Homo sapiens: one gene and its partner. The protein of the gene in region 1 interacts with the protein of each later gene in a pairwise test. Each region holds a gene or a part of one and is shown on either strand. Other genes may lie near its edges. The genes, in order: MEP1B and SMIM24.

The links.
Region 2: the proteins of MEP1B (region 1) and SMIM24 interact in a protein complementation assay, tested with the Homo sapiens proteins (one study listed by IntAct).

Annotation. Positions count from the first base shown.
Region 1 is NC_000018.10:32,206,781-32,210,590, forward strand, and holds part of MEP1B (meprin A subunit beta isoform 1 precursor), read left to right. Parts: intron 1-471; coding exon 472-690; intron 691-1,338; coding exon 1,339-1,491; intron 1,492-3,720; coding exon 3,721-3,810. UniProt on the Homo sapiens protein: Membrane metallopeptidase that sheds many membrane-bound proteins. Exhibits a strong preference for acidic amino acids at the P1' position. Known substrates include: FGF19, VGFA, IL1B, IL18, procollagen I and III, E-cadherin, KLK7, gastrin, ADAM10, tenascin-C.
Region 2 is NC_000019.10:3,478,345-3,482,254, forward strand, and holds the start of SMIM24 (small integral membrane protein 24 precursor), read right to left. Parts: upstream 2,182-3,910; 5' UTR 2,120-2,181; coding exon 2,053-2,119; intron 586-2,052; coding exon 474-585; intron 135-473; coding exon 75-134; intron 1-74.

The DNA of each region.
Region 1 (3,810 bases):
TTTGTATTTTTAGTAGAGACAGGGTTTCACCATGTTGGTCAGGCTGGTCTCGAACTCCTGACCTCATGATCCGCCTGCCTCGACCTCCCAAAGTGCTGGGATTACAGGCGTGAGCCACCACGCCCGGCCTTAAAATATTTATTAGAGATGAGGTCTCACTTTGTTGCCCAGGCTGGTTAGCAGCACTTTCTAGAATCCTCCTTTCCACGAGCAATTTTTACAGCCTTAGACTAAATGCCAATGTCCTAACTATGGGCTGCAATAGAACCTTAGATATGTTCAGTGTGACTGCTGGTATCACAGTTCTAAGCTTGAATATTATATTGTAAGATGGGAATAATGAAACTGTTGTTAGTTGTAGCAAAAATTGCTTGAGTTTATTATATTCTCCATTTCTAAGTGAGCAGTATTTGGAGTAAGATAAGCTGAATTTTGTGAACATCAAGTAAAGATTTTTTATTTATCCTTTAGGCAGAGAGCACAATTTTAACACCTATAGTGACGATATATCAGATTCCCTGAATGTTCCCTATGATTACACTTCAGTAATGCACTACAGTAAAACTGCATTCCAAAATGGAACAGAGCCGACAATTGTCACAAGAATCTCAGACTTTGAGGATGTGATCGGCCAACGAATGGATTTCAGTGACTCTGATCTCCTAAAGTTGAATCAACTGTATAACTGCTGTATGTGACAGGTTCTTTGAAATGACTTATATTTTCCGCTGTTATGTAGGAAAAAATGATGGTCTGTGCCATTTTGTCAAGCATTGGTGGGGTTTCTGCGATTATAGAGATTTGATATTCAGGAAATAAACAGAATAGCACTCAGATCTCAATCTACAACTTGGAAGCAGCATTTTTCTTTTCACCACGTCTGGTGTTGAGATCTAAAAACAAATTGGGTCCTGTAGGAATATGCCTCAGGCAAGTTTTTAAAGCTGTTACTAATTCAAACCTCGGTCAGATTGATACTCACACTTCCTTTTAGCCAAAATGATATGTCTAGTTGTAATATGAATGGGATCAAATAATCTGGATTGTGGCTTAATGATTCGAATAACTAGGGGAGTATAGACTCAGGTTTCTACAAATTAGAAAATTTTTTTTAAAAAAGACTTCAGGCAGGGAGCTTATTCAGATCTACAGAATTCATTACCTTCTTTGTAGGGGTTCTGCAAATAAAGAGGGATCTTTAAGCCACCATCATCCAGAATCAGCTAGGTGTTCCCTGTAATACCAACCTGGCATTTCTAATACTGTGATAAGTTCAGTTTTTGTTACTTAGATTATCATGTTGTATGAGTGTCAATAATTGTTTTTTGCTTTTTGTAGCCTCTTCCTTGAGTTTTATGGACTCGTGCAGTTTTGAACTGGAAAATGTGTGTGGCATGATCCAAAGTTCAGGAGATAATGCTGACTGGCAACGGGTTTCACAGGTTCCCAGGGGGCCAGAGAGTGATCACTCCAACATGGGCCAGTGCCAAGGTAACAGGAGTGAGATATTCCTAGACTGTATACTCAGTGGCTACAGCCACATACTTCTCTATGAAAGAATGGGATTTTATCTCTAATTTCTATCAGAATTATTAATGATTATTCATTAGGTTACTACTGAGAAGTAGGCCTTGCACCTGATAAAGACATTGTTAATTTCTTTGCTTTTCCTTCCTGAGTTTATTTTTCTTTCTACAAGTCAGAGCTGGGCTCTGTGATGCCTCTACCAGTGCGTTCCCATAGGAGAGTGTACCAGACTGGGCCTCCTGCAAGGCCTCTTATCTCAGGGGCAGTACTATTGTTTCCTAGAAGTTTGCAGAATACAAGAGACTCTTTCCAATGGACAGCACTAGGCTGCGAATTATTGTTTCAGAACTGTAGCTGGATGTGATTATATGCTCCTGTTACAAAAATATCTAAAAAGCAGAGTTTATTTAATTTTCTTCAGATGCGTATCCTTTTCCATTTTCATTTTGTTTTGCCTTAAGTAGTTATTTGGCTACAAGGACCAAATTTTTACGTATTTGCTTATTCTGGCATCAAATATGTAAAACTAGACTTCAGAACTTAGGGCCAGTGCTTAATAGCTCAGATGATCTAGGCAGGAATTGGAGGCCTCTAATGGCAAAAAGGTGCTTTTCCTTTTATTTTTCTTTTTAAATGCATATTTGGATAGTGGATAGTGGTCCTACTCAGACCAGAGGAAAGTAGATAGGGAGGGAGGGGGAAAAGAAGAAGAATCCAGACCAGGTAGCTCTCACTTTTTTCTGTTTTTGAAAACTAATTTCTGTGGTAAGGGAAAGGTTCCCTAATGTTGTCTCTTTCATAAATCGCCTGCTCCTAGAACCATATTTAAATGCCCAACACAATTCCCTGCATATAGTGGAAACTAAGCGAATACTTGAAATAAGGTAAAGAAAATTGGGCCGGGTGCAGTGGCTCATGCCTGTAATCCCCGGCCTTTGGGAGGCCAAGGTGGGCGGATTACCTGAGGTTGGGAGTTTGAGACCAGCTGGGCCAACATGGTGAAACCCTGTCTCTACTAAAAATGCAAAAATTAGCTGGGTGTGGTGGTGCATGTCTGTAGTCCCAGCTAGTTGGGTGACTGAGGCAGGAGAATCACTTGAACCCGGGGGGCAGAGGTTGTAGTGAGCTGAGATCATACCATTGCGTATCAGCCTGGACAACAGAGTAAGACGTTGTCTCAAAAAAAAAAAAAAAATGAAAGAAAATATATATACACTCAAACCAGAATTACTAGCTGTGCCTTCTTTAGAGATGGCTTAGAAGGTTAAGTATTGCAGATAATGAAAGCAGATAAGTGGGAGGTGCCTCTGAAATTATCAGGTTCAGTTATTCTCAATTTTTTCATTACAAGTATCATTTTAAAAATATTAAAATGTGAATCTCCCCAGATGGTTGCTGTAGTTAACAATATCTTCTGAAAGTTGAATTTCTTTCTTCCTTTTCTTTTTTTCTTCCTTCTTTTTTTGTGACAGTTTGAAGCCAAAGAAGTTAGAAAGTGTTTAAAAAAAAAAGGGGGGCGGGCAGGTCAGCCAAGGCCCTGGTTTCCTGGCTGGACTCTCACCTCTGTCCGCAGTGTGTGTTCACCTTTCCAGAAAGACCTAGAAGTTCACGTTGAATTACCCTTGGGAGACACAGATGCTACAACTCTCTACCCACCCAAGTTTCAAACCCTCGTTTTGACTTAATTTCCATTTTCCTTTTTCATATTCTCAGCGGGGGAACAACCCTCTGTAGCATCTTTGTCCAATGGTAGCTCTTTCCACTTGGAGCTGGACCAGGGTTTTGGACACTTGAAAGGTGTCCCATGTAGAATCTACCTTTTAGCCCTGCTGTTTGGGCTTGACCTGCAGCCTTACAGTGGATTTTTAAAAAGTTAGCATTTGATACTTAAACTTGCTTTATCTTTATAGCTCATAACAAATGAAGATAAGCAAGGATTAGTGCCCACGGAAAACTACTATTGTAAGTAAACGTTTTATAAATAATAGAGAGGTTTGAGTTTTATACTGTTATGTCAATCTGCTAGCTTTTGCAAGTGCCAGATATGTAGCTTAGGCTTCTGTCATTTCTCCCTGGCGATTTATATATGGATGTTACTTATGCCTCGCGTAAAGAATCTAGCACCACCATTAACAAACACACATTCCTATACCCAGTATCTGTTTTTCTCTCAATTCTGCTTTTCTTTAACAGGTTCTGGTTTCTTCATGCATTTCGATAGCAGCTCTGTAAATGTGGGGGCCACAGCAGTGCTGGAAAGTAGAACGCTGTACCCTAAAAGAG
Region 2 (3,910 bases), on another chromosome or scaffold:
GTCATCTGCGCACACCCATTCCCCCACCCCGAGGAGGGGTTCACACAGACCCCCAGCATCCGCACGCATAGTACCTCTGGTCCTGGTATAGGTTGGACTCCATTCTGAACGTGGTCTCCTCCTCGTCCTCAGCCCTGCAGAGATAAAGGGAAAGGTGGAAGGGGGCGGGAGAGGAGAAAGGGGGCGGTAAAGGGAAGGAAGCGGTGTGACAGCCTCAGCCTCTGTCCCAACCTCCCAGCCGGGGCTCATGAACCCCAGGACGCAAGGAAGGGCTGGGCTGCCTGGCTCGTTGTCTTGGGGAGACGGGCGGGTGCAAGCCCGGGATCTGGGCTCTGAGAGTAGAGGTTGGAGGAGCAGCAGGGAAATGGGAGACCTTCGGACTTTGAGGCTGGTGATGGGGGTACCAGAGAGGGTTGGGAAGCTGGGGGTGGGGGCAGGGCTGTGGGGGCAGCGGGGTGGGGGCGGGCACCCACCTGGCCTTGGAACACCAGAGGCGGTTGGCCAGCAAGACCAAATAGACGATGAACAGGAAGCCGACTACCGCAGCCAGGCCCACCAGCCACGGCTTCAGGCGATGCTCCGTGGCTGCAGGAAGTTGGGGAGGTTCGACTCAGAGGAAGAAAAGGTCAGAAGACCCCCTTCCCCCACCACCCTAGCAAGGAGAGAGAGAAGGTCACTGGGGGTGCTCCGACAGAGGGGGTATTGGAAAGGGACGGAGCTTCAGAGACCTGGATGGCGTAGGGGGGTCGGGAGGGTTTAGAGAGGGGGAGGGTACCTTACCAGAGTGGGAGGGAGCCTGGGGGCCCAGAGAGGGGAGGGGCTTATAAAAGAAGGGGGGCTTAGAGGGGACGGAGTTTACAAATCAGGAGGGCTCAGAAGGGGCGGGGCTTATAATGCAGGCAGAGGCTCAGGGGGAGGGGCTTATAAAGGCGGACCTCAGAAGGGCGGGGCTTATGACAAAGGAGTGGCTCAGGGGTGGGGTTTATAAAGGAGAACAAGCTCAGGGGAGGGGCTTATGAAGGAGGAGGTGGCTCAGATGGGGAGGGCTTATAAAGAAGAGTCTGGGGGGTTGGGGCTTACAACAGAGGAGCTGTTGGGGGGAGCTTATAAAAGGAGGCAGAGGCTTAGAGGGAGGGGCTTATAAAGGAGGAGCTCAGAGGGGAGGTGCTTATAAGGGGAGAGGGTCTCAGAGTGGGAGGGGCTTATAAAGGCGGCAGAGGCTCAGGAGGAGGGGCTTATAAAGAAGGAGGAGCTCAGAGGGGAGGGGCTTACAACAGACGAGGGGCTCAGGGAGGGGTCTATAAAGGATGAGTGAGAAGGAGGGGCTTACAGAGGAGGAAGAGGCTCAGATGGGGAGGGGCTTGTGAACTAGGGGGCTCAGAGTGGGAGGGGCTTGTAGAGGAGGCAGAGGCTCAGGGGGAGGGGCTTATAAAGAAGGAGGAGCTCAGAGGGGAGGGGCTTACAGAGGAGGAGGGACTCGGGGAGGGGTTTATAAAGGAGGGAGAGTGAGAAGGAGGTGCTTACAAAGGAGGAAGGGGCTCGGATGGGGAGAGGCTTGTGAACTAGGGGGCTCAGAGGGAGAGGGGCTTATAGAGGAGGCAGAGGCTCAGGGGGAGGGGCTTATAAAGAAGGAGGAGCCCAGAGGGGAGGGGCTTACAGAGGAGGAGGGGCTCGGGGAGGGGTTTATAAAGGAGGAGGAGTGAGAAGGAGCGGTTCACAAAAGAGGCGGGGACTCAGATGGGGAGGGGCTTGTAAAGGAGGCCCGAGCTCAGAGTGGGGCCGAGCTCAAGGCGGGGGGTTCAGCCAGGTGTGCTCAGAAGGGCTGGAGAGGGGAAAGGCTCGGGTGGGCGGTGGGGGGTCCCTTACAGAGGAGGGCAGAGCCCAGCGAGAGGGAGGCCGGGCGGTACTGCGGGGGTTGAGAAGGGCCTCCAAGCCACTCTTCCTTTTCTTCCTGCCCCCTCTCCTTTTTCTCGCCATGGAAAATTGGGAGATGGTGATCACCTGACCAACTCCCCTATCCCGCGACGCCCCCTCCCGCCCCCCTGCACCTACCCTGCTGGGCCTCCACCGGGGAGAGGAGCAGAAACTCCAGCACCAGAAGGGCCCCCAGGGTCTCCATGACGGTCGAGTGAGCCAGCAGCCAGCCAGCGGCGGTCCCGGGTCGGCGTCCACAGGTTTGGTGTGGGCGAGGCCCTGCCTCCCCGTGATAAGGCACAGGCGGTCCCCGGGCGGGGGATGCCTGAGACCTGGGAGCGGGGCCCGCCCCTGGCACCACCTGATTGGGCATCCTGCCCCTCCCCTGCCAGCTCCTGCCCCATCGCTCTCCCTCCGGGAGGCCAGACTCTGGACCTGTGTAACAATTAACTGAGGGAGTCCCTCCTCCCTGCACCCTGCCCTGGGGACCATCAGCCTCAGGGCCACCCCTTTGTGATCCCTGCTGCAGGGGCTGAGCTGAGATGGCTGCGACCTCCCGTCCCGGCCCAGGCCCCGTGCCACTCTGGACACAGGGGGAACTCACAAATACAACTGGAATATCTTAAGAAGGGTGCGCCCACCCAGTGCCTCACACCTGTAATCCCACTACATTGAGAGGCCAACGCGGGCAGATCCTTGAGCCTAACCTGGGCAACTTAGTCAAGCCCTACCTCTACAAAAATAGAAAAATTAGCCAGGCGCGGCGGGCACCTGCAGGCCCAGCTACTAGGGTGTGCTGAAGTGGGAGGATCACTTGAGCCCAGGAGTTTGAGGCTGCAGCCAGTTATGGCCGCACCACCGCACTCCAGCCTGGGTGACAGAGGAAGACCCTGTCTCAAAGGAAATAAAAAAAATTAGAAATACAAAGAGTTACCAAGGCTGGGTACAGTGTCTCACGCCTGTAATCCCAGCACTCTGGGAGGCTAAGGCGGGAGAATCGCTTGAGGCCAGGAGTTCCAGACCAACCTCCTCCCGTCTCTAAAATAAAAAATGTAAAACTTAGCTGAGCATGGTGGCCTGCACCTGTAGTCTCAGCTACTCAAAGAGACTGAGGTGAGAGGATCGCTTGAGCCCAGGAGTTCGAGGCTGCAGCGAGCTACGACTGCACCACTGCATGCACCACCGCACTCCAGCCTGGGCAACAGAACAAGACCTTGTCTCTCAAAGCAAATTTGAGAGTCACCTTTTGTGCTCTCAGAGTACACATGAGGCTCCGTGCTCGGCAATTTCACAGATCGCATTTCCTTTTCTTAACACCCCGTGAAATGGTGCCGGTCTCATTGTGCCCAGGAAAGTCAAGGTCACGCAGCAGGTCTGACCTGGGATTTGAAGCCGGGTCTGCCTCGCCCCCAGCTTATCCTGCCTCGCCCAGGCTCTTGGCCCCTGAGGACCCACAAGCAGCCATGGGAGCACACAGGGACAGGGAAGGTGTGCAGAGGCCACATGCCCGTGGTCCACCTGCAAACCGGGACGCTCTCACGTGGGGATGCCCGGGAGCGTTGATGACTCAGGCTCCAGGCTCTCCTGTCCTCAACCTTGGTCCCTCGGCTGATTAGATAGTGGGCCCTGCCCGGGCGAAGGGGGACCCCGCCCCAGCTGACACGGGAGCAGCCATGGCCCAGACGAGTGGTAGGAAGGCCCGGCGTCATCGCACAGGTGTTTATGGAGCGCCTGCTGAGTCGCTGTCACTTCCTCTCTTCCGGAGGTCTGCGGATGACCGCTGAGCAGACCGGCCACTCAGCAGGATGGGGCTCACACATCCCAGCCCCAGGATGGCCACAGGTCTGCTTGAACCAGCCAGGCAGGCATCTATTAAACTCTGACTGTGTATCCCGTCTTGTGCAGGGCTTGGAAGAGAAGGAGGCCTTGGTGCTGTCTGGGAGCTCTCGATCTGATTAGGAAGTCAGGACCACCCCCCAGAGACAAGCAAACCCAG